Linked DNA regions of Homo sapiens. The protein of the gene in region 2 interacts with the protein of the main gene of each other region in a pairwise test. Each region holds a gene or a part of one and is shown on either strand. Other genes may lie near its edges. The genes, in order: BLCAP, FAM241B, BIK and CGRRF1.

Evidence for each region.
Region 1: the proteins of FAM241B (region 2) and BLCAP interact in binary tests that used the Homo sapiens proteins (3 or more experiments, as listed by UniProt).
Region 3: the proteins of FAM241B (region 2) and BIK interact in binary tests that used the Homo sapiens proteins (3 or more experiments, as listed by UniProt).
Region 4: the proteins of FAM241B (region 2) and CGRRF1 interact in binary tests that used the Homo sapiens proteins (3 or more experiments, as listed by UniProt).

Annotation. Positions count from the first base shown.
Region 1 is NC_000020.11:37,524,871-37,532,021, reverse strand, and holds the start of BLCAP (apoptosis inducing factor BLCAP), read left to right. Parts: upstream 1-4,145; 5' UTR 4,146-4,229; intron 4,230-4,289; exon of another isoform or gene 4,290-4,448; intron 4,449-7,151. UniProt on the Homo sapiens protein: Acts as a tumor suppressor; induces growth arrest at G(1)/S checkpoint and apoptosis via RB1-dependent and p53/TP53- and NF-kappa-B-independent mechanisms. Modulates expression of genes involved in the regulation of proliferation, cell cycle and apoptosis.
Region 2 is NC_000010.11:69,625,787-69,633,246, reverse strand, and holds the start of FAM241B (protein FAM241B), read right to left. Parts: upstream 3,001-7,460; 5' UTR 2,934-3,000; exon of another isoform or gene 2,611-2,933; coding exon of another isoform or gene 2,588-2,610; intron 2,544-2,587; exon of another isoform or gene 1,972-2,543; intron 1,768-1,971; coding exon of another isoform or gene 1,700-1,767; intron 1,539-1,699; coding exon of another isoform or gene 1,504-1,538; coding exon 1,408-1,503; intron 458-1,407; coding exon 188-457; 3' UTR 1-187. UniProt on the Homo sapiens protein: May play a role in lysosome homeostasis.
Region 3 is NC_000022.11:43,120,729-43,127,752, reverse strand, and holds part of BIK (bcl-2-interacting killer), read right to left. Parts: intron 3,738-7,024; 5' UTR 3,731-3,737; coding exon 3,570-3,730; intron 57-3,569; coding exon 1-56.
Region 4 is NC_000014.9:54,526,890-54,533,913, reverse strand, and holds part of CGRRF1 (cell growth regulator with RING finger domain protein 1), read right to left. Parts: intron 3,866-7,024; coding exon 3,688-3,865; intron 3,012-3,687; coding exon 2,864-3,011; intron 1-2,863. UniProt on the Homo sapiens protein: Able to inhibit growth in several cell lines.

The DNA.
Region 1 (7,151 bases), on a different chromosome or scaffold from region 2:
GCGAGTTCCATGTGCATTAGAAGCCCTGCCTCAGCTTCCCCAGTTTTCTGGGCCCCAGGGAGAAAGGGCTGGCCACTGAGGCCTTGTACATGCTAACACTCAGCCTGAAGTTACTGGAAGGTGGTATCCCGCAAAACAGACCTGATCCTTGTTTAGCAGCATGTCACATTCCATGGGATGGCAGGACCCCTTCCTTTCTTCCATTTTTCTTGTTTCTGTTTTTGAGATGGAATCTCGCTCTGTCGCCCAGGCTGGAGTGCAGTGGTGCCATCTTGGCTCACTGCAACCTCCACCTCCCAGGTTCAAGTGATTCTCCTGCCTCAGCCTCCCGGGTAGCTGGGATTACAGGCGCGTGCCACCACACCCAGCTAATTTTTATATTTTTAGTAGAGACAGGGTTTCACCATGTTGGCCAGGCTGGTCTCAAATTCCCGATCTCATGATCCACCTGCCTTGGCCTCCCAAAGTGTTGGGATTACAGGCGTGAGCCACCACACCCAGCCCCTTTCTTCTATTTTTCTTGAGGTATAACATACGTAAAGTATATAAAGCCCCCAGTCTTTTTTCTTTCTTTCTTTCTTTTTCCCCCGAAACAGGGTCTCATTCTGTCGCCCAGACTGGAGAGCAGTGGCACGATCTTGGCTCACTGCAGCCTCTGCCTCCCGAAGTCCCCTAGTCTTATGGTGAATTTTTACTTGATGAATTTTCACTTACATAATCACCAGCCAGAAGAAGATATAATCCTTCCAGCATCCCAGAAAAGCTCCTCTTGCTCCTTTCCCATCCCTACTCCTGACCTGACCCAGGTAACTACCATTTTGATTTCTAACCCTATAGATTAGTTGAGCTTTATATGAATGGATTCATATGGTATGTACTGTTTTGTATCTGGCTTCTTTTAGTCCACATACTATATGTGAGATTAACTGGTGCTATTACATGTAACAGTAGTTTGTTCTTTTATATGTAAAACACAGTATTCCATTGCATGAACATGCCACAATTTATCCATTCTCCAGTGATGGACATTGAACTATTTCCAATTTGAGCTATGAATAAGTCTGCTATGAACATTCTTGCACAAGTCTCCATGTAAACATAGGCACTCATTTCTCTCGGGTACATACCTAGGAGTGGAAATTCTAGATCACAGCATAGGTGTATGTTTAGATTTTGTAGATGCTGGTTTTCCAAAGTGGCTGTACCAATTTGCTCTGCCGTCAGCACTGCAAGAATTTGTTGCTCCACAGCCTCTCAACATTCAGCTCTCTTTTTCTTTTTTTGTTAGTTTTTATTTCATAATCATAAACTCTGCAATCCACCTGGGCATGGAAGGGAACAAGGAAAACATGAAACCCAAAGGGAACTGCAGCGAGAGCACAAAGATTCTAGGATACTGGGAGCAAATGGGGTGGAAGGGTGCTCTCCTGAGCTACAGAAGGAATGGTCTGGTGGTGAAGATAAAACACAAGTCAAACTTATTGGAGTTGTCTACAGTCAGCAATGGTGATCTTCTTGCTGGTCTTGCCATTCCTGGACCCAAAGCGCTCCATGGCCTCCACGATCTTCATGCCTTCTTTCTTCTTTCACCTTGCCAAAGACTACATGCTTGCCATCCAACCACTCAGTCTTGGCAGTGCAGATGACAAACTGGGAACCGTTTGTGTTGGGTCCAGCATTTACCACGGACAAGATGCCAGGACCTGTATGCTTTAGGATGAAGTTCTCATCATCAGATTTCTCCCCACAGATGGACTTGCCACCAGTGCCATTATGGCATGTGAAGTCACCACCCTGACATATAAATCCTGGAATAATTCTGTGAAAGCAGGAAACCTTTTAACCAAATCCTTTCTCTCCAGTGCTCACAGCACGAAAGTTTTCTGCTGTCTTTGGAATCTTGTCTGCAAACAGCTCGAAGGAGTAGGGGCCTAAGGGCGCGTCATCGACAGTGATGTCAAAGAACAAGGTGGGGCTGACCATGGCTGATAGTATGGGGATCCCAGCGGCATCTGCAAAGCCAGCTCTCTCTTTTTCTAAACAAGAGCTTCCACTACAAGACTCCTCTTGTCATTCAGTGTTGGATACTGGGTGTGGCTGCCATGGATGCATTGATCCTTTAGCCTGTAAGCAGCAGGATGGTGGGAGGCCACATTCAGGCCTGTTTTGAGTCTCAGCTGGAGGAGAAATGGACATCTCCTTGCTTTGGATGTGACCTCAGGAACTGGATAGCCATCTTGTGGCCATGAGCATAAACCAGCACAAGGACAGAAGATAAAATGAACCTCAGTCCTTGATGACACTGCCTAGCCACTGAGTGGCAGGCTACTTATTTTTTTAAGCCACTTGATGTAGTTGTGTGTTTAACTTGCAACATAAAAGATACAGTCCACCAACCTTCTTTATTCCCAAACCCCAACGGCTCCATTTCTGTTCTCAACAGCATCAGCCCCACTGAGCACTCCCTCCTTCCTGAAACCTCCTCTCTAGGACCCACACTCACTTGGTCCTCTTTCTACCCCACTGGCCACTGCTTCTTAGTCTCCTTTCCCGGATCCTCCTCTTCTTTTCTCTCCACCTTCTTTCACTTGCGTTCTCACCCAGCACCATGACCTTTGTATTGATGGCCCCCAAATATGTATCTCCTGCCCCAGCCTCCGTTCGCAGCTTCTGTGTCACATAAACCTGCCTACTCACCCTCTCTGCCTGCATGTTGCCCCGACATTTCAAACTTAACTTCTCAAAGCCGAACTTGATCTTCCCCCTCAGTCCGTTCCTCTTTCAGGCTTTATTGTCTTGGTCAAGGAATCTTTTACCCTTTCATTTACTCAAGGCTAAAACCTAGCGAGGAGTTATTGCCAATGCCTCCACATCCACCCAAGTCCAATCTTCCACCCTTCCCTTCACCTCCCCAAGCTACCACCCTGTCTGAGTCAGCATTGGCTTTTGTCTGGAAAGCTGCAACCACCTCCTAACTGGTCTGCCTACACCCACTCCTGAGTGCTTTCCAAGCCATGCGGCCTGGGTGGCCTTTCAGAAATCCTAATTTGCTATCCTCTTCCTGATGAAAATGGCTTCCCTGACTCTCAAGAGAAAAGCCAAATTCAGTATGTAGCTGACCTGTTTTCTTCTGTGCTCACCTCACCCCAACTCTGCCGCTTCCCAGCTCCAGATCTGGGACAAATGTTCTTTCTGCCTAGAACATTTCCCCTCTCACTCTTACCCTAATCGTCCTTTGTTTCTCAACCTAAATGCCATCTTCCCAAGGAGGTTCCACCCTTTCCCTACATTAGTACTCCATTAATTTCTCCTAACACTCTCTACTTCTTCTCACAGCACTTCCCATGATGTGTAATTATGTATTGATTAAAGTCACTAATATACAGTGATTATATGACTGTCTCCCCGCCTACCCGCCATTAGACTGGCAGTGCCTTGAGGTCAGGGACAGACCCAGGTTACCGACTCTACCTGCCCTTAGCACTGCGCTTGGGTACAGTAAGCGCCCAAGGAATATGCTTAATTAGCTAATAAATGACTACACGGACTCATTCAAGCCTCATAAAAGCCCTAAGGTGGGCATTTCAACAGAAGCCGGGTCGGGGTGGGCGAGGGGCTCGCTGGCCCAAGGTACGGGGCAAGTGGGGGAGCCGAGGCCTGACCCAAGGCAGTCCCAAGTTCTGAGCCCGGACCTTTCAGCTCCTGAGCCTTGGCTGCATGATGAAACGCTAGGGAGGGGGTGGACTTTGAGCCACGAGAAGGTTTTCCCGGAGTCCACGGACCATCCACGCGGGCAAGAACGAAGCGGGTTCACCAACATGAACACAACCCGGCCCGCCCAGCGCTCACGGAGTAAGGATCACAATCTGCTGCATATGCATGAGGGGACCCGGCCGCGCTTCGGGGCTGTCCACACTGCGCCTGATAAAAATTATTCGGGCTTGAAGATCTCGGGGCTCCCAGAGTTTTGTAAAAGTGCATACAAAGTCCTCAAAGGTGGTCTGTGGCTGATATTTACGGGAAATGGGGCGAGGATGAGCCCCCACTTCGGACCTTGTGATCAGGCGTTTGCGGTAGACAGCCCGATCCCAGGATGGGTCCTCGGCCGGCTCGACTAGAAGACTAAGGGGGCGTCTCCCCGGCTTCCTGCGGCGTCGGTGGCGAGCTGAGGTGGAGGCAGGCTGCGGCAGACGGCGACAGTGGCGGCGGCGCCATGGCAGGGCTTGCAGGTACCGTGGCGTCAACCTGCTTGGGGCGGGATGAGAGGCCCTCCATGCGGCCGCGCCGCCATATTGTCCCTTCTGGGTCACCTTAGGCGTCGCCGGGTCCCCGTCACTGGGGTTTTCCTTCCGCATACCCCGGGAAGGCAGGGCGCCCCTGTCCGGCTTCAGGTGATTGCCGTGATTGGACCTAGCCTGGGCCTTGGGGGGTCCCTTCCCAGCCCGGAGGTGGGTCATAGTACTCCTGGGTGCTGGCTCTGGCCTTGTCCAAGGTCAGCGCCCTTGCAGGATGAGACAGGCAGAGCCGGGGGCACGGGGCTGGGAGCGCGACCACCATCTCTGCAGCCCCGGGTTCCACGGCAGGGTGCCCAGCTTGTGAGAGGCCTGTCATTCTGTCCCCATCAGTTTAGTTGCGTTGCTTTAGTTGCTTTTTTGGGGGGGAGGTGGGGGGACGTGGGGGTGAGGGGAGAGAGGGTCTCCTGAGGCTCCGCTTCGGTGTCTGGGGTGATAGGCTGACGCTCTGCTAAGAGTCGCGGGCGCTTCTTACTCCCTCCAACTTTACATCAAGGGTGGACATCCCTTCCCTTTCCTTCTATAGACGTGGGGAGTGGCCCTCAAGGGCAGCTGAAGGAACGGAATGCCTGGCGCACTAATGGCCTGGAAAGGAAGCATGGGGGATGGGGGACAGTTGTTTTTTCCTTCCCCTTTCCAAATCTCCTTTAGTTTCCTTCCAGGCCTCCGTGTCCCATTTCATCGCCGAATGTTGGGAGACTGGGGTCTGTCCTCGGAAAGAAACAGCCTTTCTGTTTATAGGTTTGGATCGTCTATCCCTTTCAGGGAACTGGTGTGTTGGGGACGGCTTCTCTGCCCTGCCTGACATGGTCCAGTCATCCCGTCAGCCTTCTGGACGGCAACACCAAAGCTGGGACCAAAAAAAAGTTCCAGCTTAAGTGCTAATGCCAAGTGTTAGATCTTGTTTGCTTGTTTGTTTTAAATCAGAGACTAATTAATGTCAAGCAAATCTGTTAAAAGATTTGATCACGGGAAGCCTGGTCGGTTTCCAGTGACCAGGTCAATTCCATATCTGAAATTAGTCTTGTTAGAGTTGCTGCCAAAAACAGTTTAACCTTTAATCTGTAATATGTTGTTTCAAAGAGGAATCTGGGTTAGACTGTCTTTTTTTGTTGTTGTTCTCCTATCTTTGAAACACATGCATTCCATTTCAAGCCTGTCCCTGTGCGATATACCAAGAACCACGCGTTGCCTGCCTCTCTGACTTCCTGCTCTGGAAATGCTCAGGAATCTGGATCCTGCTGGGGCATGCATGGGCCCTGTGGGAGGGCAAGTCGGGGAGGGGAGGATAAACAGGATCACTCCCAGGGAAGATGGTGACAACGTGTCTCTGGGGCATATAGAGGAAGTCAGAGGTTACCGGGGGGAAAAGAGATTGTTGTTTGACTAGTGTTTTGTGTATGTGCATGAGTGCACACGTTTAAATCTCTGAGGGGGGGTGGGGGCGGTGGGGGGGGGAAGTTAACTGCAAATTCAGAATCTCCCTTTGGGGTGTTGGCTCCTGAGGAGATACACATTTCAAAATAGATATCTAGTAAATGGCTCACAGCAAACCTGCTCCCCGATCCAACAGTAATCCGTTGCCCAAGCTCAAGGAACTTGCCCCTGCCCTTCCCTGACAGCAGACATCCCTTCCTTCAGTGACAATTCAAATATTCCACAGATAAAGGTAACAGTGTCACATAGCACCCTGCACCCCTAAAAGTCATGGTACCTAAACACCTCTGGACTTAACTTCAGTTCGTTAGGCTAAGAAACTAACATCCTGGAGTATTAGTCTCAAGGGTCTCTCACCTGTTGCTGGAGTCCCACAGAGCTATTCCCAATTCCTTCCCAACCGATCTGCTCTGTCCTTGGCCTTGTGGGGGCAAAGTCTTCTGGGAGCAATGATGGTTTAGGCAAAGGGGACGTTCAGCACTGTGACTAAGGGCTGTGCAGTAAAACACTAGTCATTTTCAATTCTTCGCATTGCTCTCTATCAGAATAAAATGTTTAATGGTATAGTTTGTGGAAAAAATTTTATAAACAAGGTGTGTTTGGACCATCTAGGCATTGCATGGCATTGCACTGGATGGAAAGTGAATGCACTGTCTTCTCTGGTGGGTTAAGTTTGCTGCCAGAACATGAAGTTTTGTGGGTGGAGGATGCAAATGGGGAGTGGACATTGCACATTGAAGCCCACACGTGCAGGTGCAGGCCACCAGGGCAGCCCTTGCCTGGAAATCTGTCATCTCACCTTGCCACACTCACAGCCCTGCTGATGGACGGATGGAGGAAAAGGGCTTTGCCAAGATGATATGGAAAGCTCTGGGGCTACCAGGAGCCTCTTGTCCTCTAAGTGGGGGCACAAGAGGTGCTGTGTCCAGAGCAGCCAGCTCTTACCATGCTGCTTTGGCCTACCTCCCTGAAATCTGCTACCTTGTCACTTGGGCTGAGGTTAGAGCATCAAGAAGGGCAGTGGGGCTATGGGCATACCCCTCAAAAGCTCCGAAGGGAGGGTCAGCCTTCATGGAGAACACATGTTGGTATGTTCATGATTCTGTGGGTTTAGTGTGGAAAACCACAGAAACTCCCAGTTTTGAGGCCTGCCAAGATATGGGGTTCAGAAGGGAGGAGGTGTGGGCATTGCCTGCTGATGAGTCACACTGGGGCGAGAGGAGACCTGCCTCACCTTCAGGCTATGGTAGCAGCTATAGCCACCCAGCCTAAGAAAGATGAAGTCTCAGATTGCACATCCTCTTCAAGTCCTGATGAGTCCTGATTGCCACTGCTATGGCAGTTTCTAGCGTGTTAGGGTTCACTGGCATCTCAAAGGCCCTCTTCGAGAGGGAAACTGGAGATGAAGGGTACAAGGTGACA
Region 2 (7,460 bases):
ACTTTGGAAATGCTGGACTAACGTCTCCCTCTGCCTCACGCTTAACACAAAGGGGAAACACACACCTGTGGTCCCCTCTCTGATCATACCTTCAAGGCACCACCAGATCCCCTCCAAATATGCCTGCTCTCACACCAAGGCCCAGCAAGTCCCTCTCAACAAACCCACCCCTATCAGCCCTCAGAGGTCACCGCTGACTCAGGTGGGACACCAGGTAGACAAGGCCAACCAGGAGGAGGCCACGAACACCAAGCATCATGAGCAGGAAGAGGAGCAGGATGGAGGTCACCGGCTCCACAGCATGGTTGCCAAGATGCCACTGCGGAAAGCCCATGTTCACCAGCTGCCGGTTGAGGTCATTGAAGGGGGACTGAGCAGCACCCAGCCTGGCACCTGCCTGCTGCTGGCGGGGGCCAGGACCCCCTGGGGGAGCACCATGGCCCCTGTTGAAGAAGCTCTGGAATGTGAAGACAGAGAGAGATGAATGAATCATTGGGTTGACGCACCAGCCAGGAATCAACCTCTCTAGGCTGCATCCTGCCCTTCCTACAGCCACCCAGGGTCACACCCTCCTTTCTCAGCAATCCCCCATGCCACCCATAAGAATCCCAACAACCAAGTCACAAGCTCTCAGAGCACAGAACATGCCAGTCTATATTCCTCACATCAGGCCCAGGACAGAGGAGAGAGGAAGTGGTTGAGGCAGGTTGGACTACAGGGCATGGCTCTAGGGCCAGCATTTTTAATACTCATCATCACTCCTTTCTTTTTTTTTTTTTTTTTTTTTTTGAGACGGAGTCTCGCTCTGTCACCCAGGCTGGAGTGCAATGGCGCGATCTCAGCTCACTGCAACCTCCGCCTCCCAGGTTCAAGCGATTCTCCTGCCTCAGCCTCCTGAGTAGCTGGGATTACAGGCATGCACCACCACACCTGGCTAATTTTGTATTTTTAGTAGAGATGGGGTTTCATCATGTTGGTCAGGCTGGTCTCAAACTCCTGGCCTCCTGATCCGCCCACCTCAGCCTCCCAAAGTGCTGGGATTACAGGTGTGAGCCACCGCGCCCAGCCACCCCTTTAAAATGATTATTCTGTGCCCAGGGCTCATCTCCTCCACTTCCTCTCCAGCTTCTGTCATCCAACCCACTCTTAAAAGAAAGACGCTAGCTCCAGTGAGGTTTGCTAACCAAGTTAAAGGAGAGAGAGCTCTTGGCTGTGAAGTCTGGGGAGGCGCCTGGAGAAAGGAGATCTGGGGAGGTAGACAATAAGCCACTGCATCTTCCCCAGCTCTCTGCAAAGAGGGCTTCAGGCTAGAAAAGGTTAGTGACCAGCAAGAGAGACTTCTGGAAGCTAGGAGTAGCCAGTACACAGGAGGCCATCTGTCCCACTCCACAGGAAATGAGTACCTACCTGTCGAGGAATGCTACCTCTTGGTGGCTGGGTAGTGGTCCTCACTCGGGGGTCGTCATCCTGCACGATTTCCCCATTGGCCAAGATCCGCACCATCCTCCCAGGCGCTGTGGGTCCCTGATGGGCTGCACCTGCATTGTGTGGTCAGGGTGGGCAGGCTAATGGAAGCCAAGTGGCACAGAAGTTCTCCCCACCACAAAACCTTTAGCTGTTAGTGATCTGGGACCAGACTCGTGAAGATCTGTGGAGGATTTTCCCCCTGACCTCAAAAAGCTTGAAGGAAAAAATTTACCAGAAATTGAGGGAGGCTTGCAGTCAGTGATGTTCACAGAGGTGACCCACGCTGAGTAGATGCTGTGTCTGATTAACAAAAAGGGGAGAAATAAAGGCAAGTTGTTTGCCAGGCAAAAAGATTTCAGACATTGAGTCCACCAGGAAAACTATCAAAAAGATCCTTGGCAAAGGAAGTTTTACTGCCAATCACTACACTGCCAACAGCACAACTGGGACTAGAGCCTCTGCTGTGGCCCACGCCCCGTGGAAGGCCCATCCTGCAAGGCTCACCTCACTCAAGCCTCACAACACTCCCCCGAGGAGGGTACTAGCGCGGCCATTGCACAGGCGGAGGCACAGGGAGACTTAAGTGGCCTGCCCGGGATCACACCTACGGACAGCAGAGAAGGAACACGAGGCCAGAAGCTCTGGTTCTAGGGCCCTCCCTGGGTACTAAACTGGGAGTCCAGGGCACCAGCATCCCCAGTGGGGTTCCAATTCCCTTCCACTAAAAAATGGGTCGAGTGTGTTGCTCCCCCAGGGAGTCAATGTCACCACCTGGGCCTTCCCCAGGAACACCCAGGGAGATGAGGGTCACTTCGGGGTTACTTTACAACCACTGCCTGGTAGCGGCAGACCATCCTAGCCATCATGCGCCTCGGAAGAGCACACCTTTGCTGCAGAGGGCACGCCCCTCACCTGTCCCTCACTTCGCAGGGAACACCAGTCCAACCTTGGCTAACGGGCGCAGGGCCCAGCCTTCCCAAAATATGGGAGGGGGTTGCTGCGGTGGCCCTCGAAAGGCTCCACTCCGCGGACCCCTGGACTGCGGGGCCCCTCCACGCCTCCCCTTGAGTCTGGGTAAAGGCCATTCATTCTCAGGAGATGAGCCTCAGTGTCCACCTACATTCCAGATAGCACTGGTGACATGTATGCCGAAAAAGGTCAGGAGCCCTGTGGTCTTGCCCGTAGCCTGGAGCCCGGGACAGGCGCGTCCCCCTCCTGAAGCCCGCTGGCCCTGGCGCAGGCCGAGCGGATGGTGGTCGCGCGCAGTCCCTTTGTGCTTTGTCATCGCGCCCCCGCCCGGTGGGCCACCCGCGCGCCCGGCCCGCGGCGCACCTGACATTCCGGGCCGGGGGCGGGAGGGACGCTGCCCCGGCCGCCAGCCCCAGCCTCTGGAGCCCGACACCGGCTCCAAGTCCCGGCCCGGGCTGCAGCGAGGGATGCGCTCCCTCCCCGGCGCGGCGACTCACCTGCAGGCGCGACTCCGGGCCTCGGCGGCGTCCACTCCCGGCGGCTCCAGGCGGTTTCCTCCCACCTGACCTCACAGGAAGCGCGCGCCGGAGGGGCGCGGCCCAGTGGCGGCGCACATCGCCCTCTGTAGGCCGCCTGAGGAATTGCACCTGCCCGGCCCAGGGTTGGGGGCGGCGCGGGGTGCTGGGGGTCGGGGAGATGGGGCGTGGGAAGGAGTGGGAGGTGGGGATGGAGAGAAAAGAGGATGGGAGGAGAAGACACGTGGAAAAGAAGGAGAAGAAGGAGGAGGGAGAAAAGAAGGAAAAGGAAGCGGCGTCCACGGAGGAAAAACCCAGGGGGTGGGGGCGCCCTGGCCTGGGAGGAAGGGCGGGCGCAGGCTCAGATGACCAGTGTTATGTTTGCTGACCCAGCTCCGTGGATGCCCCTTGAGTAGGACCCAACCCTGCCCTCTAGGAGTTCCAAGTTCAGTGGGGAAGATGAGGCAGGAACGGGGCAGAACCCTCTGTAGGCTTCCAGGAGAAGATGCGTTTGAGCTGGGGCAGGAGGGTAGGTAAGGATAGAGAAGGTCACTCTTGGCAGAAGGAACCACCTGCAGGGAGTGAATGATCCACCTCTGCCTCCTTCCTGATGTTTTAAAATCCACTTCTCCCCCACCACCTTCATAAGCTGCTCCCTGTGGACCTGCTCACCAGTGGGGGAGAATGAGCTGTGCAGTCCCACAGTCTGGGTTCAGGTTCTGGACTCTAGCAAGTTACTTAGCTGCTCAGTGTCACAAAGCAGGTGTAATCATAGCCTTACAGGACTTCTGTGAAGATTAAGTATGATGTCTCTGGCACATTGGCAATGTTGATAAACGTTAGCTATGATTATCATTTAATAAATGTTTGTGGGAGTGGCAGATATTTGTTGAGCATTTATTAGAACCCAGATTCTGCTAGCTGCTGGGCAGAAGGAACAAAACTAAGAGAGAGATTTAGACCTGGCCTGGAGGACTCATAGTCGGCCACCATAGTCTGATTATTTGATCATGAAACCTTATCAGCAAAAAATGTTTCACGGGTCGCTCTGGTATCTGTATCTTATTTATATGTTACTATTTTTGTTTGTTTCTAAATTACACATGTGTACTGTGAGAACAGATTGGCATGATGGATAAAAGGTGGCTGCTGGAGCCATCCTGTGTTTGAATGTTGGTGTGACTGCTTTCTGGCACTTTCGTGTCAAGTGCTTGGATGAGAGCCTGGCTGCAGTACATGCTCAACGGCTGCTGACTGTTATGATCATTACCTCTTCTACTATCAAGTCGATTGTAAAGCATGCACATTTTAAAAGCATAGGATGTAAAGTAAATATAAACCAAAATCCTAGTGCTTTCTCCCCACACCCCAGTGTGTTCCAGGTATGCCAAGTGCACGCATGAAAGCAGTAATCACAAGGCAGGATGCCCGATTGTCAGAGGTGGCCTGTGATCCCAAATCGCAATGTGCACATTGGAATTACCTGGAATGTTTAGAAACCATCCCAATACCTAGGTTCCACCCCAGAGATCACAATGTCGTTGATCTGGGTTACAATCTGTGCATGGAGACATTTTAAAAACCAGTCTTCTAATGAGCAGCTAGGGCCGAGAAACACTGCCTTCCATGAACAGAACCCCATAAGTAGGTCACGGAACTCAGGAGCCCCAAGAGGGAGGTAACCTCTGTGGGCTGGGAAACCAGGGGATACAGGCAGAAAATCATGGATGTTTTCAGGAAGATTTGAGCTGGTATAACTGCTGCCAGAGAGATACACTCCAGCTGGAGAGAACCGTAAGAGTCGAGAGGAAGAAGCAAGTCCCTACAGAAAAGTCAAGAACAGCTTTGGGGTGGGAAGTGATAGTGCTTGACTGGACTTAGAAATAGCCTATTATTACCAACTAAAATAGCCTAAGGAGGCAACATACCACTTTTGCTATCTCTCCACCTTCTTCAGGTGTCTCTCCTGCTCAAGAACCTGCAATGGTCCCTACTGTCTGCTCCAACAAGCCCCAACTCATTGGCAAGGCTTTGACAACCCTCCAACTCTAGCCCCAGCACACTGTCAGCAACTCCTTCCCTCAGCTCTGCCCACCTGGCCTCTTTGCTTTCCCTGAAGTAGATCACCCAAAGGCCTGCTTTGCTTGGGCCTGAATATCTGCTGGAAGGCCAGCTCCACCCAATCTAAATCCCTTCATCCACAAACGTGATTGTTTCATGTAATAATAATAATAACCCCTATATGTGCAGAGTCCTTACTTCCAAAGTGTTTTCCCAGAGACCACTTCATTCTTTTTTGGATTATGAAATAGAAAGAGTAGGTGTTATTATTCCTCTTTTACCAAGGTGAAATTGAGGCTCAGAGACAAGGTAGATGATGAGCCCAAGGTCAGTGACAGAGCCAGCGTTCAAATGAAGGCAGGTCCCCGGGCTCTGCATTCCAGGCTTTTGCATCCACCAAACAGACTCCCCTGAGTTCATCTCAGCTCTGCAGCCTCTTTACAATTGTGCCCCCACCTTCCCCAGTGCCATCAGCACAAGATTGGGCATTGGGTCATGCCTTAACCCCAACATGTGGTCAATAAAAATGTGCTTTTGGTTTTCTGTTCATAGCAGAGGTCATAATTTTTAAGTCAGGTGTCCTGGCCTGTTCTCTGACTCTGCAGGTGGGAACAACTGTTTCTGCCTCAAAAGAGAATGGCATGATGATAATGGTGATGTCATTTTAAATATATTAATCTATCTATCTCTTTCTCCTGCTATTTCCCCCTGTCTCTTTCCCCTACTCTGGCAGACACTATGCCTGTGTTTATTACTCAGAGAATGGTGTGGGAGAAAGGCAGCACTAGCTTGCCAGTGCCCACTGTTGGTGCCTCCTTAGGCCTGTGGCCATGGAAGACAGTATGACAGGGGCCTCTTCAGAGAAAACACTGGGAAAGGAGGAAATGATGGGAGCATAGGTGTTGTGTGCTGGATCTCAAAGGTGGGCATGAGGCTTGGGAAAGGGAATGGCCAGATAGTGAGTATGACAGGTAGGGCCTTATATGGCCTTGTGGAAATCCTTGGGTCCATTGTGTCTGAGGTGTGGTGGAAGGATTCTTGTGCTCCAGCAATGACAAGGGAGTAGTAAGTAGTAGTAGTAGTAGTAGTAGTAGTAGTAGTAGTAGTAGTAGTGGGAAAATTGCTGGACTTGAAAGGGTCAGGTAGACAGGTATGAAGGGTGGTTCAGTGATGGCCCTCATCCATGGACAGATGATGGGGGACCAGAGGATTGATGGAGGCCTCAGAAAACACCTTACATAGTCAGAAGACTGGAGTGGCCCCACAATATCTTGGTTATATGTAAGTATGTAAGTCCCCTAAGACATAAACCCACCTAGGTGTAATATATTAGCTTGAGTACAGGCTATGCTGCTGGAACAAAAAAAATATACAGTGACTCAATCAAGTAGATGGGCAGCTCTGCTTCACAAGGCCAGCCAAGGACATCCACTCTTCCTAGCTTATTGCTCCCCTACACCCTAGGATGCCACCCTTATTTGCGTCGTCAAAACTGCCTCACCAACTTCTTCGCCATATGCAGCTCATGGAAAGGTGAGACAGAAGAAATGAGGGCTAGTGATTTCTTTTAAAGAAAAGTATTGTAGGTGTAGCACATATTACTTCCCTCACATTCCATTGTGAAGAACGAGTCACATGGCTACAGGGCAGGCACTGATATCCCTGTGTCATTCCGGATATTGGTACTTGTGTCTTCTATCTTGTGTCTTTCACTTTTGCTAGAGGTTTATCAATCTTATTGACTGATCTTTTCAAAGAACCAGCGCTGCTTCACTGAGTCTTCTGTTTCTATTTTTCTGTTTTCAATTTCATTGATTTCTGCTCTTATCTTTATTATTTCCTTCCTTCTGTTTGCTTTGGGTTTATTTTGTTCTTCTGTTTCTAAGTTCTTGAGTCGGGAGTTTAGATTATTGATTTGAGATGTTTCAATGTAAACATTTAGTGCTATAAATTTCCCTGTTAGCACTTTTAGCTGTGCCCCACACATTTTGACGTGTATTTTCATTTTCATTTAGTTATATGTATTTTTAAATTTCTTTTGCTACTTCCCCTTTGGTCCATGGATTATGTTAAAGGATCATTTAGTCTACAAGTGTTGGAGATTTCCTGTTATCTTTCCATTATTGGTTCTAGTAATTACATTGTGGTCAGAGAACACACTCTGTATGAGTTCAATTCTTTTAAGTTTGTTGAGGTTTGTTCTAGGGCCCAGGATATGGTCTATCTTGATGAATGTTTCATAGAAGGTTGAAAAGAATATCCATTCTGCTGGTTTTGGATGGAATGTTCCATAAATCTTTCTTTTTCTTTACTTTTCTTTTCTTTTTTTTTTTTTTGTGACAGGTTCTGGCTCTGTCATCAAGGCTGGAGTGCAGTGGCGTAATCACAGCTCTCTGCAGCCTTGACCTCCTGCCTTAGCTTCCCAAGTAGCTGGGACTACAGGTATGT
Region 3 (7,024 bases), on a different chromosome or scaffold from region 2:
TGAGGCTCACGTCCATCTCGTCCCCGATGCAGGCCAGCCGCAGGGCCAATGCGTCACTGCAGGGAGCACACACAGGAGTCGGGTGTGGCTGTGCCGTGGAGGCCACATGCACCTGGACCCACCCAGCCAACGGATTGTGTGCAGCTGGGAGTGGCCCAGAGGATAAGAGATGGTGTCAGATTTGGGGCAGGCAGTGAGTGGGCCTCCCTGTATCCCTCCTCCGGCTCCCACTTGGATTCAGAGATACCCATGAGGTCCCATCCGTGGGTGGCCCCAGAGGTGCAAGCTATTTCAAAAAGAATCCTGGGGCAGGCCCACCTGTGGGCTTTGGTGGAAATGGTGGACAAGGGGAACAGGCAGGTCTGGGGGTGCTGAGCCCCCGGATGGCTGAGGCTGACCAAGGGGAATGGACAGGTCTGGTGGTGCTGAGTCCCCCGGATGGCTGAGCCCCCTTGAGCCCCCTTCCCACAGGGGTTGCAGCTTACCTTCCTTTGTGGGAGGTGAGGGGGCTCTAAGACCTGTGTCCTGGTCCCAATCCTGAAACCAGCCCTGCTGGCACCACCCCTCTCCAAATGGGGGGACTAAGAAGCCCCTAGTAGGCCCCCCACTAAACCACATCCTTGATCCTACACCCCACCCGCATTCACTCCCACACAAAGACTAAGACACTCCCCACCCTCCCAGCTTGCTGGTCTGGGCCTCTACCAGGGACCTGTGTGCATTCCATCCCAGTGACTACACCGGGGGAACTCCCAGGGAAGTGGGACTCCTAGGGGCCCTGAGCTGAGGCCGGCCCTGGGCCCTGGCCCCACCCACCTGACCTGCCAATGCCCTGGGCCTACACTCCCTACTTGGAGGGGATGCGGGTGGGAGGGGTACAGGTGTGGGCTGGCAATCAGGGTTGGGGGCTGTGGTCCTACCTTCTGTTACCCTGGGAAACCTCAGGAAAATACTGCCCCAGGCTTCATGTCCTCCAACCTTGTCCATTAATGGACAGGTGCCTCCAGTTCTAAAATCCTTAATGACTAAAAATCCTGAGGCTGAAAAAAAAAATCCTGAGCAGAAAAGAATCCTGTGGAACATGGAGCTGGTCCCTGGCCTGTGGGAGGTGCCACATCAGAGACAGGATTCCCCAGCAGAAAGCAACAGCCCAGGTCAGGCCTGACCATTCTCTTCCAGGCTCAGGGTAGAAACTACTGAGGTCAGCTGCTCCTGGGCCTTCACGTTCCTCATCTGTACCAGGGGAAGAATGAAAGTGCCAGTCCTGGCCGGGTGTGGTGGCTCACGCCTGTAATCCCAGCACTTTTTGGGAGGCCGAGGCAGGCAGATCACGAGGTCAGGAGATCGAGACCATCCTGGCTAACATGATGAAACCCTGTCTCTACTGAAAATACAAAAAATTAGCCAGGTGTGGTGGCAGGCGCCTGTAGTCCCAGCTACTCAGGAGGCTGAGGCAGGAGAATGGCGTAAACCAGGGAGGTGGAGCTTGTGGTGAGCAGAGATCATGCCACTGTACTCCAGCCTGGGCGACACAGCGAGACTCCGTCTCAAAAAAAAAAAAAAAGCCGGGCATGCTGGTGCACGCCTGCACTCCCAGCTACTCAGGAGGCTGAGGCAGGAAAATCACTTGAACCCGGGAGGTGGAGGTTGCAGTGAGCCAAGATCATGCCACTGCACTCCAGCCTGGGTGACAGAGACTCTGTCTCAAAAAAAAAAAAAAAAAGTGCAGGTCCTTCCTGCCGCTGGGATGGCCGGGTGTGCCTGGACATCTGGGTATGCTGCCGTGTGCTGGACATAGCTGGGAGCAGTTGGCAGAGTGCAAGGGTCAGGTCCTACTGGACCTTGGCCCCTGAAACCCCAGGCAAATCCTGCTGCCTCCAGGGTCCTTGTCAGTCCAAGGAAGATCCCTTCTTCATGCCTCAGTGATTCTTTGAAGCCGGGACCAGGAACTGCATGGCCTCCTCAGGCTCTTCCATAGGTTCTGGTTTTCTTTCTTTTTTCTTTCTTTCTTTTCTCTTTCTCTTTTTTTGTGAAACGGAGTCTTACTCTGTTACCCAGGCTGGAGTGCAGTGGTGCAATCTCAGGGCTCACTGCAACCTCCACGTCCCGGGTTCAAGTGATTTTCCTGCCTCAGCCTCCTGAGTAGCTGGGACTACCAGCGCCCATCCCCCCACCCCCGGCCCCATACCTGGGTAACATTTGTATTTTTAGTAGAGGTTGGGTTTCACCATGTTGGCCAGGCTAGTCTCGAACTCCCAACCTCAGGTGATCCGCCCACCTCAGCCTCCCAAAGTGCTGGGATTACAGGCATGAGCCACGGCGCCCGGCCCGGTTCTGGTTTTCTAAAATGAGAGCCGTCAGAGGCAGTTGAACCAGAGCGACTCCATCTTGATTAGGGGCTGGGTAACAAAAGGCTGAGACCTACTGGGTTGCATTCCCAGGAGGCTAGGAATTCTAAGTCACAGGATGAGATAGGACATCAGCATAAGATACAGGTTACAAAGACCCTGCTGATAAAACAGGATTCGGCAAAGACGCCAGCCAAAGCCCACCAAAGCCAAGATGGGCACAAAAGTGACCTCCAGTCATCCTCACTATTCATTGTGCACCAACTATATTAGCATGTTGGAGTCACTCACCAGTGCCACGACAGTTTACAAATGCCACGGCAACGTCAGGAAGTTGCCCTATATTGTCTAAAAGGAGGAGGAATTCTCGGTTCCGGGAACTGCCCACCCCTTACCCGGAAACTCATGAATAATCCACCCCTTGTTTAGCATGTAATCAGGAAATAACTATAAGTATATTCAGTTGAGCAGCCCATGCCGCTGCTCTGCCTATAGAGTAGGTTTTCTTTTTTTGAGATGGAGTCTCGCTCTGTTGCCCAGGCTGGAGTGCATTTTTGCAACCTTGGGTCACTGCAACCTCTGCCTCCTGGGTTCAAGAGATTCTCCTGCCTCAGCCTCCCGACTAGCTGGGACTACAGACATGTGCCACCAGGCCCAGCTACTTTTTGTATTTTTAGTAGAGACAGGGTTTTGCCATGTTGGCCAGGCTGGTCTCGAGCTCCTGACCTCAAGTGATCCGCCTGCCTCAGCCTCCCTAAGTGCTGGGATTACAGGCGCGAGCCACTGCGTGTGGCCCAAATTCTTTCTTGCTTGAGATCTAAGAACCCTCTCTTGGGATCTGGATCGGGTCCCCTTTCTGGCAACAGAGTCACCTCCTTCAAGAGGCCCTGATGTCCTCAGCAGGTCGCTAAGGGCCTGTCTAGCTCCCTGAGGCCCAAACACTGTGCCATTTTGACAGCCAGGGGCCCCAGGTCCATCTTGAGACTGTGAACATGCTGGCTGTCCAGGGGTCTGTGAGCTGGTATCAGGGGAGGGTGGGGCAGCAAAGTGAAGCCGCTCCCAGGGCAGAAGCCTCCATGCCCACATCCGGGAAATCTTCCTCTCGGAGGCCCTGCCTGGGAGGCATCTGCAGGCGCTCCCCCGCTCATAGAATGTCTGCTCATCCAGCCCACCCCTGAAGTCACTATCAGGCAGGGGGTAGGGCAGGCCATGGGGACCTACCTGCCCTCCATGCATTCCAAAGAATCGAAGTCCTCCATAGGGTCCAGGTCCTCTTCAGAGTCAGTCATGCCAAGAACCTCCATGGTCGGGGGTTCCAGGAGCTGCTCATACAGGAGGGTCTCCATCAAGATGTCTCTGGAGAGGGGTCTTACTTCAGACATTTCTCCTCTGGGGCAAAAAGACAGCATATGACTGGACCCCTAAGAACTGAGCAGTCTGGGGGCTCTCTCACAGGATGACCCCCAGATTGTATAGCCCTACTCACCAGCTCTTTTGATCCGCTAAAGCCGTCAATATCCCCCAACCCCAGCTCCCACAGGCATGAATCCTGCTACATGCTGGCTGTGTGCCTCTGGGCAAGTCGCCTAGCATCTCTGTTCTTGGAAGGGAGGAACTTGAAGATGATTCATAAGGGCCCTTTCTTTCTTTCTTTGTTTTTGGATACTGAGTCTTGCTGGAGGCTGGAGGGCAGTGGCACAATCTTGGCTCACTGCAACCTCTGCCTCCTGGGTTCAAGCAATTCTCCTGCCTCAGCCTCCCGAGTAGCTGGGACTACAGGCATGAGCTATGCCTGGCTAATTATTTTGTATTTTTAGTAAAGACGGGGGTTTCATCATGTTGGCCAGGCTGGTCTTGAACTCCTGACCTCAAAGTGATCCACCCCACCTCGGCCTCCCAAAGTGCTGGGACGACAGACATGAGCCACCACGCCCAGCCTTTTTCTTCTTTGTGAAACAAAATCAGAGTATAAATAAATATTAGAAGTTCTCCTCGGACACCAGCCCTCAAGAACCTGTCAAAGCAGAAAACCCAGGCACCTGCTGTCAGCACAGGGGACAGAGGCCAGGCTGCAGGGCGATTCCTCTGTACCACTTAACAGAAGGCTACACCTGTTCTTTGGTGTCTGCTGTTTCTCTTGAGAAGAAAGGCAGAGAGGCAGCATGAGAAAAACGTATCACAATCCCCATTCCCAGAGAGACCATCGCTAATTCTTCTAGTGTTTTTCCTAAACACTTGTGCGCATCACACATCCTTCTTCACAAATGGGATCACCCCATACAGTGTCTTACAGCCTTCTTTACTGGCAGATGCTATTTACCTCTCCGATATCCATTCCACCTGGCTCCTTGCTGATAGAACCCCAATTTTCTTCGGGGTGGCCCTGCATCCTCATTCATCTAAGCCAACCATGGCCCTCCTCTCCCTCAGCTTCCCAGCATCCCTTGCAGCTGGTGACAACCATGTAACCCAGTTCTGGTCAATGAGGGCTCAGAGGCTGGAGGCAGGGGTTGGATGCCAGGGAGTAGACACAGCCAGGGCAGCTCCTTCAAAGATGGAGCTGCAGTGGCTGACCAAGAAGAGCAGAGTGGGGAGGCAGAGAGCGGCCAGGCCTGAGGGTGTCACTGAGCTGTCTCCTCCAACTGTGTGTAAGAAAAATGAACCCAAATGTGTCCTCATCACCATTCACTGAGTTTCCTCTTCTTTGCCACCAAAGGCCTTCCTAACTATGATCATTGCGAATCCCATGCCAGTACATGTTTCATCATGATGGCAGAGAAGGGTTCTGCGACCTGATTCACCATCATGTACCCCACATTTACCCTACAGGGTACCAAACAGCCTTAGATGTAGATGACGATAATGACGATGACTGTGGCACGGAAATCTAATGGCCTAGTTCAAAGCCCGGCTCTGGCAGTTAGCAGCAGTGTGTCAATTTCTTCATCTGTGAAATGGGTTTCATGGTCTGAGAGCCCCGCCCTGGGCTATTGGGAAGACGAAATAAGGAACTCCTTCATGTACTTTGAACAGGGCCTGGCACGCTGGGAGGAAGTTGGCACTAACCATTACCTTTATGCTTCAACTCATTATTTTCTTACCATAATGCCCTGGGTGTTCTTAATTTTTAATTCCTCATGCCTGCTGACAGGACACTCCGCCCTCCCACCATCTCACTGAGCTGTTTGTTCACACAGGACACTGAGGCTTAGAGAGGTTCATGACTAAGCCAAGAAGGGACAGAGCTCCAAGTCTCCCTGACCCCCAGGAGAGAGAAAACTGACGGCAGGCAGGACCCACAGCGCCGCCCTCCCACAGGCCTAGGCACAAGTGTGTGCTCACGACTTGCTTTCAGCATTCAAGGGAGATGGATGGGCCGGGTGCGGTGGCTCACGCCTGTAATCCCAGCACTTTGGGAGGCTGAGACAGGCGGATCACCTGAGGTCAGGAGTTTGAGACCAGCCTGGCCAACATGGTAAAACCCCGCCTCTAATAAAAATACAAAATTAGCCAGGCGTGGTGACATACGCCTGTAATCCCAGCTTGAACCTGGGAGGCAGAGCTAGATTCTGACTCAAAAAGAAAAAATAAGGTTTCACAGATGAGATGTTTTACATTGTATAGACGGCCAGCAGTGTGCGTGTTAAGCTGGCATTAGAAGAACTGTGTCCAGAACTTCCAGCTGCCTTGGGTGTCTATGCAAATGGCATTTCCCTAGGAAAGCAGCTCCAGCCCTTGTTTGCTTTTCCCCCCTTTCCCTTCCCCTCGAAAAGGCAGTCTCCTGCTTTGTGCTCCTGGAGACCCCAGTACCTCCACGCCCCGCAAAGCCAGAGCAACAGTGGAACCTCACCTCACTGTGAGCTGAGCTGTGAGCTGCACCGAGCCTCGCCTTGACCCACTGTGCCCACAGCCCCCTTACCCAGCAGGCATTCCGAGAATCCTTAGGCGCCAGATAGGAAGAAGGCCCCAGCCACCAGAGTGGGCTGCGCTGCCGAGGGTCTGCAGCAGAGTGCAGGTCAGGCCTACCTGAGGAGTCAGTCACCCACGCTCTGCCTGCAAGACCCTTTCAAGCTCCCCACCCTGCCAACCTCCCCATCTGAGTAGACCCAGGACCACATCTCACCTTAGGTTGATACCCTAGCCCAACCCTTCCTGCACCAGCCTCAGTTTCCCCATCTATTGTGTTTTTGTTGGTGGTAGTGTTTTTTTGTTTGTTTGTTTGTTTGTTTTTGAGACAGTCTCACTCTATTGCCCAGGCTGGAGTGCAGTGGTGTGATCTCAGCTCAGGTGCAACCTCCGCCTCCCAGGTTCAAGTGATTCTCCTGCCTCAGACTCCCAGGTAGCTGGGATTACAGGCACATGCCACCACACCCGGCTAATTTTTGTATTTTTAGTAGAGTCGGGGTTTTACCATGTTGGCCAGGCTGGTCTCAACTCCTGATCTCAAGTGATCCACCCGCCTCAGCCTCCCAAAGTACTGGGATTACAGCACTTTGGATTAATTTATTAAATACCCATTACCCTCTACCACAAAGAAGGGACCTAATCTGAACCTTTAACCATCTGGCCTCTGGGCCCAGGCCCTCAGATTGACTTGATATGAATGGCAAAGATCCCATCACCAACTGGGCCTAGGCTGGCCTTAGGGCCCAGATCTGCATGGGAAAAGTGTGGAG
Region 4 (7,024 bases), on a different chromosome or scaffold from region 2:
TGATTATTTTTGGATGATAGAATACAGATTATTATACTTCTCTCCTTTTGGCTTATCTACACTTTCTAATTTTTTTTCCTGCCACAAATGTATTATTTGAATAATACTGAAAAAAAGCCAATGTAATTAACTAAAAATGAAAAAATTTTAAAGTCAAAATTTTGTAGTAACAATTCCTGCTTTCCTTTTTTTAATCTAAAACAACAAAGTGGTTCCTAACTGTACTACCTAAATATAATTCTTTGCTGTTAAAATAAAAATGATTTTATTAATAAATTTTTTAAAAAAATATAGTCCCTGACACGCACATACAATACTGAAAAAACACATATGAAAAAGAAATAGGAAATGGTCCATTTGCTTTTAAAATTATAAACAGAGAACATTAATACAAAATACACTAATAAATATATTTGAGTGCCAATATTACCCCCAATCTAAGAAATAAGACGAGAAGCAAGGATTAACAGGAAAAAAGGAGGGAGCCCACAGATGAGAATAAAAGACATTCAAAAGGACCCAGACACAGAGACATACACAAAGCACAAGAGAAGATGGCTGTTAACCCTTGGGAGACACTCAGGCTTCCCTATGGGAACAAGCCTCCCACAACTACAGCTGGGCCACACAGTCTTCATCCAGTGTGATCAGGGACCTGAGAGCAAACTCTTCTCTGGCCTAAAAGGCCACTGAACTGAAAACACACACACAAAAATGGTTAAAATGGTAAACTTTATATATAAAATATATATATTTTACCACACAGATACACAATCACTCCCTGTTTGGACAGGGGAAGAAAGTTAGAAAAAAAAAAAGACCCTGAGCACCTAGAGAGCACTATCAGTGAAGGGAAAAGGAATGCAATGGGGAAGCTGGGAGGGAAAATGACTGCGATCTGATCCTTTTGTGCTGAACCAAAGGAAAAAGGAGAACAGAACCCAAGAAACTCAGCAGAGATGGGGCACACAGTGGGGGCAGAAGGGCTTCCTTGCCCAAGTACACAGGGTCAAGAACAAAGAAGCTAGAAATAGGAGACACCAATTTAACAGGTTTTATTTATCTCTAACTGAAACTGAGAGAAAGGAGGGAGGAAGCCAGAAGGCCTCTCATGCACGCTAAGGTGCATGGGATGTACAGCTAAGGTGTTTCGCTGTCAAGCTCTATGAGGCTCATTAACATTGTCTAGTATGACTTTTTTTTTTTTTTTTTACTTATCAAATCTTTATTGAACCCCTATTATATCCTAGGCACTGTACTAGGTTCTGGAAATACACTACTGCTGGTATGACTTTTGTATTTTGTATTTTTATTGTATATATTTAAGGTGTACAACAGGATGTTTTGATATATATATACCTAGTGAAATGGTTACTATTATAATGCAAATTACGCATCATCTTACACAGTTACTTCCACTTTTTTTGCATGTGGCAAGAGCACCAAAAATCCCAAAAGCAATACCACATTAACTATAGTCTTTATGCTGTACATTAGATCTCTAGACCTGTTCATTTTATGTATCTGTAACTTTGTCTCTAGTGACCTACATATCCCCATTTCCTTCCCCTCTGCTCCCCATGACTTGGAAAAAATAAGCTGACCTCAGCTCAATGGAACTTCAGTTTGAAAATATTAAAAACCAAAAACCTAGGTGCTTAACTGCAAATGAGTAAGAAGGGTCTAGATTTCCCAAAGAGTCTTTACCTTCCAAAGCTCAATGTACACTTGTTGCAGGAAGATATTCCTGCTAAAAAAAATAAACTCAAAAAACAAAAACAAACAAACACACACAAAAAGCTCAGAGTCAAGCTCTTGTTCCATCTCTTACTGCCTGAATGACTGGGATTTTTCTTGACTCTGTTTCAGTCTGTGAAAGGAGAATATTTGCCCTGTCCTAAGAAACCAGGTTGTTAGAAGAAAAAAATAAGTTCATGTTTGTGAACGTACTTTGCATATTACGAATATCACAAAACAATGTTACCATATGTTTATTAATGAATAATCTATATTAAATACTTCAGAAAAGTAGTCAATTGTGTGTAAGGACATTTTTACCATGATACAATTTCATCAAAAGTTTATTTCATGTCTAAGTTTCTATTATACTCAGATGATTGTCAAAGTTTCAGTCCTCTTAGATCTCTAAGATACTTTTAACTTCCTAATAGGAATCAACTATCAGACTGAAAAAATAATTAGCACATAATGAGGAAAGGAGATTATTATAATTACTGAAAATACAGGGACCAGACATATAAGATATAGGTGCAGCAGGGACTTTGATGGAAACAAGGTGACTGCAAGCAGGCAAAAAAAGAGTGGATACTATCTTAAAATTGAGCACTTTCGATCATTATTGTGCTTATTTATTCACTGCTAAACATGTTCAGAATAAACATGCTTCCCAACAGACTGTTTCTATACAGCAAATATGACAGAATACAGAATGATGAAATTAACTTAATTCAACCATTATATATCTTTTATTTCCCAAATAAAGTCATATTACTGTGATCCATAAGGCAAAAAATGAGTCATACTCTGAAGGTACTGTTACACATATAAAAACTAAATAGGTGTATACAACCAAATAGGTGTTAATGATGAAACTAACTTAATTCAACCATTATATATCTTTTATTTTCCAAATAAAGTCATATTACTGTGACCCATAAGGCAAGAAATGAGTCATAATCTGAAGGTACTGTTTCACATATAAAAACCAAATAGGTATATAGTTGTTGTAGGCCAAATGCACATCCTCAGAAATTAAAATAAAACTTTTTCTATTTATCAAATAATGAAGAACCACCATTCAAATCACTTAAAGGTAATGCTTTCAAAATTTTCAATTACTTACAATATCATAAATTTCCCGGTCATCCTCATCAGCTAAGGTCAATAGCGCTACCAATGGATAGCGAGATCTGGGTACTGTACCAAAGTCTTCAATTTTAGTATCTCTTGGTAACTGGCAATATATTTCTTCTTTGCTATCCTTTTTAATACTTTTTGAAAATGTAAAGGTAAATTGCCACTATAACCATAAGAACAAAAATACACCAAAAATGATCAATAAGTTAGCAACACTTTATCCATAAGAAGTCTAATTTTCAGTGCTAATGGGTATATCAGATAAAAGGATACAAATACTGTTCCTGATAGAGACATTCACTCCACAGAGCATCTTCTAATGCTTGAGGAGTGCTTATTCTGAAGCAATAAACATGCTTCTAGTATACCAAAAATGATCAATAAGTTAGCAACACTTTATCCGTAAGAAGTCTAATTTTCAGTGCTAATGGGTATATCAGATGAAAGGATACAAATACTGTTCCTGATAGAGATATTCACTCCACAGAGCATCTTCTAATGCTTGGGGAGTGCTTATTCTGAAGCAATAAACATGCTTCTAGTATACCAAAAATGATCAATAAGTTAGCAACACTTTATCCATAAGAAGTCTAATTTTCAGTGCTAATGGGTATATCAGATGAAAGGATACAAATACTGTTCCTGATAGAGATATTCACTCCACAGAGCATCTTCTAATGCTTGAGGAGTGCTTATTCTGAAGCAATAAACATGCTTCTAGTATACCAAGAATGATCAATAAGTTAGCAACACTTTATCCATAAGAAGTCTAATTTTCAGTGCTAATGGGTATATCAGACGAAAGGATACAAATACTGTTCCTGATAGAGATATTCACTATACAGAGCATCTTCTAATGCTTGGGGAGTGCTTATTCTGAAGCAATAAACATGCTTCTGCAGAGCTTCATATAATTTTTGAACACTGCACCCCCAGTAGCATGTAAGGAGGCTATCTTCAAGGCAATCTGTTGTCAAGGTTATGCCAGCTGTAAAAAACAAAGGAGAAAGAATGAAAGTGATTTAATGTAACTTCTAATACAATCATACAGGGTGAGTAACAAAAGCTTCCTTTTGGATGCTGGCCAGGATGATGGCAGTTAAAAGAACTTGTTAAAGGGTATGCCTCCTATAAACGAAGGAACTGGCCTCTGTAACAAGAGATATAAAAGCTCAATGTCTACACATTTTTTGAGAGCTATCAAAAAACTATTTCTTACTATTTATCTATTAAAGCTTAGAAACTGTTAATTTTCTTTTTTGGCGACTCTAAGACATTTCCCATCTAGATTTTTAAAACTAAAATACAGTTCACTATTGATAACCTACCACTCTCATAGTGTATATGATCCTAACGACAAGAAACAGTGCAGCAGAATACAGCTGTCCTCTAAAGGGGATATGTACAACCTATAGGCTCCACAACATGATCGCTGTTGTAAGAAAAATATTAAAAAGAAACTGAGCTTTACTAACATTAATGTATACATTGACAACATTAACATACAGGCTTGTCACAGACTTAATGTCCCATGTAATATGCAAAATATCCTGAGGAAAAGAGTGGGGATTCCAAAACATAAAGAGTTTAATAGTGGTATCTTAATTCAGTTGTTCACTTTCAACTTAAGAAGATATAACAATTTGAGTAGACCTGATTAAATGGATATACAAATTGTAAGTAGATGTGAAATTATACAGTTTTATTTAACACTTGTATAGGACTTACTTTGTGTCACCTATGTGATTTCCCCCTCCTAGTGGTATTTGTAGCAATATCACATTCAAGGGTAGCAACATCCAGCCTTTCATACTGCTGGGGGTGCAAACTGTAGCAGCGCAAACTGTAACGTGTAGTACTCCTTGGCACTGATACACTGACTAGATAAAAAGGGCCTGGTTTTGGTCATTGTTCCTGGCTCAACAGCCTTGGCATCTGATTTTGGCTCTCCAAACCTGCCAGCAATTCTGTAAGCTACCCAATATCCTTTTATTGAAGTTGTTTCTGTTGCTTGCTAATAAGAATTCTGATTGATATATTACCTATTTTTTAAAATGTGATCAAGAGTATATGTTAGAAGAAGATACACAAATACAAGCAGATGCTCCACAGGATACCAAAAACTGATTTTTCCAATTTTACTCTCAGTATTTAGTAGTATGTACACACAGTCTGAGAGTCTGAGTAGCATTGATACATGGCCATTTCTAATCATACTTAAGGAAAAATTTTAATTGGTAGGAACTTTGCATAGGTTAATTGGAGCAGGCTTTGATTTCAAATTTTTATGATTCCAATCATCAGGTATTAACTCAAGAATGAAAAATTCCATTTGATATTAAATAGCTGAAGGAAAACATTTTATTTATACATACACAAATACATATACACACATATACACACACATACAAAATCACACATATTTTTCCCTTTGTCACTGTAGAACCACATAACATGAGGCAGAAGAAAAAAGCTGGAGGTAGATACGAAAGGAAAAAATAGAAAATGCATATTTTAAAACATTGAAAAAGAAAAAACAAGAAACACAAAATGATTATTTATTATTGTATTACTAGCAAAAATGTGAAAAGATATATGTATAAGGCTACTCATTATAGCACTAGTTATCATAGCAAAATGCTGGAATAAACCCAAATGTTCATCAATGCGGATTAAATGAATAAATATAGTACTCTACAATAAAGTACTAAGAAGCTATTAAAAGTGAATAGGAAGGCGGAGGTTACAGTGAGCCGAGATCGTGCCACTGCACTACAACCTGGCTGACACAGTGAGACTCTGTCTCTTAAAAAAAAAAAAAAAAAAAAAAGAATTGAGGTATATCAGAGTATCTGCACACACTATTATGAAATGATCTTCAGAATATATTAGTAAATGAAAAAAAAGCAAGGTAGAGAAAATTAAATATATATGCTACTGTTTATCTCACAAGAATGGATACCCATATATGTGTTTGTTTACATTAAAGAAGAACAGGCTGGGTGTGGTGTTTCATGCCTGTAATTCCAGCACTTTGGGAGGCCAAGATGTGCAGATCACTTGAGCCAGGAGTTTGAGACCAGCCTGGGCCAACGTGGCAAAACCATGTCTCTACAAAACACACAAAAATTAGCTGGGCATGGTGGCACGCACCCGTGGTCCTAACTTCTTGGAAGGCTGAGGTAGGAGGATCACGGCTGCAGTCAGCCATGATCACACCACTACATTTCCACCTGGATGACAGAGTGAGACCCTGTTTCAAAAAAAGAAAAAAAAAAAAAGAACAATGGAAGGATAAGCCTTTTAAAACTCAACTTACAGCTTACAGAACATATAAAACTACCCTGTTTATTTGCTTTGTAAAAAGAAAAAAAAAGCCAGAGCCCCAAAGATTCAGAGCTACTTAAGAGACTCGTTTATAGACTTTGTATACTTAACTAAAATGGGAAGAGTGTCAGAGACCTTTGACAACTGGAGATTAATCAGATCTTAAAATGTCTCTAAAATTAATTTAAAAAAACTACAGAATCTATAAAATTATACTCTCCATAATCTCTTTTTTTAATGTTATTATTATTATACTTTAAGTTTTAGGGTACATGTGCACAATGTGCAGGTTTGCTACATATGTATACATGTGCCATGTTGGTGTCCTGCACCCATTAACTCGTCATTTAGCATTAGGTATATCTCTATAATCTTTTACAAACTTGTCCATTACATAAACTGAGGGGAGAATGTAATGATTTCCACTATCTGAAGACAGTGTCAGTACCCCCATCAAAACTATTCTCCCTTTACCTTTTCCACTTTTTTTTTTGCAAAGAGTTTCAATTTTTATGTATTTTTTTGCCTTCTAAAACTCAGTACACACATGACATCACTTTAGATCAATAGCATTAACAGAATTGGGACGTAGCTGTAAGAAAATTCAGAATCAAAATAAGTGAAGCACATGGGTGTGGTATCTCTCAAACTGTCCTTACCCAGACTATCTATAACAAGCAAATAAAGCGGAGTGTAAGAGACAGCCTTGCAAAAAAGTGAAAAAAATAAGGACTGTAGAAAATATGCTAAGCCACTAAAAAGGGAGAAATGATGGGGCGGAAAAGCCACAAACCTTCTTGAGGAAGGATCCCTGTGAGAG